2 separate regions of the Homo sapiens genome follow, and region 2 is linked to region 1. Evidence: fine-mapped expression QTL. Tissue or cell type: whole blood. Region 1 holds a variant in brackets; the other region holds the start of a gene. All regions are shown on one strand. Distances are between the middles of the regions.

What was found. PIP is the estimated chance that this variant, and not a neighbour inherited with it, causes the effect.
Region 2: ARID5A starts here. The variant in region 1 is fine-mapped to the expression of ARID5A in whole blood (TOPMed, PIP 0.99).

The regions. Positions count from the first base shown.
Region 1 is chr2:96,639,218-96,641,897 of GRCh38, reverse strand. No RefSeq gene overlaps it. Among named protein-coding and RNA genes, the nearest start is that of FER1L5, 2.2 kb to the left of the region's middle. The variant A/G (reference allele first, on the strand shown) is at 1,420.
Region 2 is chr2:96,535,226-96,537,905 of GRCh38, reverse strand. It overlaps ARID5A (AT-rich interaction domain 5A), which reads right to left and starts at 1,154. Exons shown (of 7, transcript NM_212481.3): 1 at 1,076-1,154. The coding sequence starts at 1,079. RefSeq lists silencers at 1-195, 876-1,235.

The DNA.
Region 1 (2,680 bases):
GGCACCTATTCTTATTGTCCACAGCAAGGCTTTTTAGGCTTTAGGGTTGAACATCGTATAAATTACATCTTATCCAATAGTTAGAATGAAAACTAATGAATATTTAAATGCTGGGATTGGTGGCTCATGCCTGTAATCCCAGCACTTTGGGAGGCCAAGGTGGACGGATCACTTGAGGCCAGAAGTTCGGGAACAGCCTGGCCAACATAGCAAAACCCCATCTCTACTAAAAATACAAAAATTAGCTGGGCGTGGTGGCACGTGCCAGCAATCCCAGCTACTTGGGAGGCTGAGGCAGGGGAATCGCTTGAACCTGGGAGGTGGAGGTCACAGTGAGCCAAGATTGCACCACTGCACTCCAACCTTGGCAACACAGCGAGACTCTGTCTCAAAAAAAAAAAAAAAAAGGCCGGGCGTGGTGGCTTACGCCTGTAGCCTGTAATCCCAGATCTTTGGGAGGTTAAGGCGGCCGGATCACGAGATCAGGAGATCAAGATCATCTTGGCCAACATGGTGAAACCCCGTCCCTACTAAAATACAAAAAATTAGCCGGGCATGGTATTGCGCGCCTGTAGTCCCAGCTACTCCGGAGCTGAGGCAGGGGAATCGCTTGAACCTGGGAGGCGGAGGTTGCAGTGAGCCGAGATCACGCCACTGCACACAAGCCTGGCCACAGAGCAAGACTGTCTCAAAAAAAAAAAAAAAAAAAAAAAAAACAATGTTTAAGAACAATCTATTAGTTAATGAAACAACTACTTAGCAGTAAGCGTACCACGCAGTCTAAGAGATGAATGGATTCAAAGACTGAAACGCTGGGTCAGTGATCAGGGTGCTGATTGCTTTCTAGTGCAGCAGATTAAAAAAAAAAGTGCTTCTTGGAAGTTTTTCTTGAAATCTAAACACAACACAGTGCTTTTCGCTTTGTGAATGGCTTTTCAAAGTAAGCGTGACACAAAAGACCCTGTAAGTGAAAAGCTGACAGATTTGACTGTATTAAATAAAAAATTCCTATGTAGAAATTATGCCTTAAAGCTAGAAGACAAATATCAAAGCAGGGAAAACATTTTCAATATACTTAATGTCCAACAGTTTATTTAATAAATGTTTATAGAGCAAGCTCTTAATAAGAAAAGGATGACTATCCCAAAGGAAAACAAAGGCAAAGCTCCTATCAGATAATTGCCCAAAATGACAAAAAAAAATTTTTTTTAAAAAACCCTCAGTCTTGTTAATAATCAAAGAAATACAATGAAATACAATTTATGACTTTGCCAAATTGGTTTCAAAAGCCAAAAAAGATGTAAAAAAAAAAAATCAAACTCACTGGGCACGGTGGCTCACGCCTGTAATCCCAGCACTTTGGGAGGCCAAGGCGGGCGGATCACGAGGTCAGGAGATCGAGACCATCCGGGCTAACAC[A/G]GTGAAACCCCGTCTCTACTAAAAATACAAAAAATTATCCGAGCATGGTGGCACACGCCTGTGGTCTCAGCTACTCGGGAGGCTGAGGCAGGAGAATCGCTTGAACCAGGGAGGTGGAGGTTGCAGTGAGCCGAGATCACGCTACTGCACTCCAGCCTGGGCGACAGAGAGAGACTCTGTCTCAAAAAAACAAAAACAAAACAAAACAAAAAACTCATTAATAAGCAAATAAATGGGATAAGATACCATTTATCACCTCTTAAATTGGCAAAGAATGAAACAAAATGATAAACGTGGTGTGCTGAGGAAAGGAAGGGGCAGAGAAAAGATACAAATCTGTTTTTAGTGGGAATGGGAATATAAGTAGAGAAATAGCAGAACCCTGGCCCCAAACAAGCGCCCAGGAGACAAAGTTAAGGGTAGGGAGAGGTGGGGCAGGGGCTGCTCTATTTGTGATAATTTCTATGGCCTTAAGCTCCATATTTCTAAACAGCACTTTTAAATAGCATTCCTTGATTTTTTCAAATCTATGAGGCATTTTCCCAGTTTTATTGTTTTCCCCGGGGCTCTCCCTCCTGGTCTTCTCTTCTCCCCCAGCTGAGACTAGTGGTCCCCAGTCCTGCAGCATAGCTATTGTCCTGGGATACTCTTTGCCATCACCTTCAGAATTCCTCGTCTGCTTCTTGTGTTAGACCCTGCTTCCCCGATCCTATGCCTTCCGTCTTCTCAGTTTACCCTCTCATCTTTGTGGAACACAGCTTTGAGTGGCTTTCTGAATGTTTCGAGTGTTTGCATGTCTGTACCTATCTTTTTTTTTTTTTTGAGACAGAGTCTTGCTGTGTCGCCCAGGCTGGAGTGCAATGGCGCGATTTTGGCTCACCGCAACCTCTGCCTCCTGAGTTTGAGAGATTCTCCCACCTCAGCCTCCCGAGTAGCCGGGATTACAGGCATGCGCCACCACACCTGGCTAATTTTTGTATTTTTAGTAGAGACAGGATTTCGCTATGTTGGCCAGGCTGGTTTTGTACTCCTGAACTCGTGATCCACCCTCCTCAGCCTCCCAAAGTGCTGGGATTACAGGCGTGAGCCACCGCACCCGGCCATTTCTTTTTTTAAATAGAAACGAAGTCTCACTGTTTTGTGCAGGCTAGTCTTGAACTCTTGGGCTCAAGCAATCTTCCCACCTTGGCCTCCCAAAGTACTGGGATTATAGGCATGAGCCACAGATCCCGGGTGAGATTTATCATCTTGAACCATGTCT
Region 2 (2,680 bases), 100 kb after region 1:
GCGGAGCACTCCTTACTGGCCCAAGACTCTGCAAACAAAGGGACACTGGACCCGCAGCGCCTTGGGACCCCCTGGGCCCTCGGGGGTCCTGCACCGCGCAAGCCCCACCACGCCGGCGCTGGGCGGAGGGTGACGCGACCCCAGCCCGGGCGACCCCTAGACACCGCGGAGGGACGGAGCGCGGGCCCGGGTTGGCCCGCAGCTCCCGCCGAGCGCGAAGCCGGGCATCGCCTGCAAGCTCGTAGCCCACGCTCTTGCCCTCTTCCCCTGACGCTCCCCAGCCGCCACCCCGTCCCTTCTGCAGACCGAGGGAAGACAAGGGGACACACAAGGGACAGGAGAGGAGAGCAACCAGGGAAGCGACCCCTCTCCTGTGGGGCTGCGGCGGGTGGGCGGAGAGACAGGAGAGGAAAAGAGAAAAGGGAAGAGAAGGAAGGGGCAGGGGGCGAGAAGCCGGGCTCCCCGGACCATCGGCGCAGCCCGCGGCCGAAAGAGGAACAGTGGATCCTACAAAGCGCATTGAGCAAGTTCTTCACACCCGCGCAGCCCCTTTCAGGAAACGGCGGCCGCAGAGGAAAGGGCCGCGCGCTCTGGACCCGGAGTCTGTGCCCGGCGGCGCCGCGGTTCTGAAACCTGCGGGATGTCACGGGGCGGAGGGGCGGCTGCCGACAGCTGTCACAACAAATTAGCTGAGCCCAGCTCGAGGTGGAAACCGCAGCAGGAAGTGGGACGACAGAGCCGTACCGGGCTCGGCATATTTCAGGCAAGAGACGGCGAAAAGAGTTTCGAGATAAACGCCCGGGAAGCCCCTGGCCGCCAAAACTTTTTGTCTTTCCTTTTCTCGAAGCTCGCGCGGACGCCCAGCCTCACCCCTTCCGCGCCGGCCGGGGAGCGCTGAAGCCGCGGGCCGGGCTCGCTCCCCTTGGCCCGCGCCCCGAAACCCACCCCGGGCCCCTCTCCGCCCCACACAGCGCACCGACTGCCACGAGGGCTGGAGGGGACCCGGCGCCGGCACCTTGAACCTCCCTGCAGGGCCGCCGAGCCCCTGTCCGGGCCGCGCCGCAGAGCCGCTTACCCATGGCCCGGAGAGGTCCCGCGGCGCCCGCCCCGAGACCCTCAGCGCGCGGCTGTCCGGACCCCGCGCTCTCTGAGATACTGGCTCGCGGCGCGGCCCGCCGGCCACCTCCCCGCAGTCCCGCCCCGTCCCGCCCCTGCTCGCCCCACTCCGGGCTCCCATTGGTAAGCCCGGCTTCGTCGCGCGGAGAAGGCGGGGGGCGGGGACCGCCCTTGAGTCCGGGGACCTCTGGGAATTGTAGTGCGCGCCCCTCGCCTCTAGGCTTTCAGACTGGAGCCCCTGGAATAGGCTCCTCACCTAGAGGAGCGGAGGCAGGACCCTCAGTAATCATTGCTGCCTTGTGCCTCAGTTTCCCTGGAGGCAAAACTAGAGCCTTGGAAAAAGCCTCCTTGCTTTCAGCAGAGCACTGAGGACTCTGTGGAGCGAGCAAAGTGCTTCTGACTTTGATTTGAAAGTGGCCCTGTGCATTTCCCAGTCCCCACCTAGCCCAACAAAGAAGGCCAGGTGAGGCCGGGAGCGGCGGCTCACGCCTGGAATCCCTGCTTTGGGAGGCGGAGGCGGGAGGATCACTTGAGCCCAGAAGGTCGAGGCTGCAGTGTGTTTTGATCACACCACTGCACTCTATCCTGGATCCTGGGCAATAGACGGAGACCCTGCCTCAAAAAAAAAAAAAAAAAAAAAAAAAAAAAAAAAAAGGAGAGGTGGTTAGTGTGAGCTAGACAAGGACCAAACTAGTAAATCCTTGGCCTAGGCTCTGTGGCCAGGCCTGCCAGTAATAGTCAATGTCCACACACATAATGCAGACAGAGTGTGGCAGCTACAAGCTGAGTAGTCCAAAGAAGGGGCATGAGTTCAGGCTGTGGGAGGTGGGAATGAGGCCTAGGGCGAATGGAGGCAGGAGGAGGTGCCCAGCCAGCCATAGCAGCAACCTGGACCTGTGCAGGCCAAAGAGGAAGAAATGGAGGCTCAGGGTTTCAGTCTCAGCAGGTGGCTAGCTAGGATGGGAACCCTGTTCCTAGCACATAGAAGCTACACAAAAATCTTTGTTGATGAATTTTAATACTCATAATAGCTCTATGCACTTGACACCATCATTGTCCTCATTTTATAGCGTAAAACTGAGGTCTGAGAGATTAGCTCAAGTAGCACAGCTGGTAGGTGTTGGAGCCAGAGCTAGACCCAGGAAGAGGAGCCCTCATACCCAGGCATCCCCCCACCCGCTTTGCACCCATTACTAACCACTCATCATACTGGTGCCCCTCCTCACACTAAACGAAGGGACCAGGGCTGCAGTTTGGTGAACCTGAAACCCTGGCCCTTACCCTTTGGCCCTGGGATGGAAGATGTCTGCAGGCTCAGTCTAGAGCAGACGACCCTGTGGGCTCTGCAGGATAAATCCCCTGTCTACCTCATAATGGGTTGGCTTGTAAGAGCCAGCACCTGTAGAATTGGTAATAGACACCCAGAACAATCATAATGGTAATTATAACAATGCATCCCACTTTGGCAAGTTTACAAGCCACTTTCCCCTCCAGGAAAGCTAAGGCTGTGGTGGAAGACACTATGATGGGATGCCATCAGGAAGCACCTTTGTACATTCTGGAA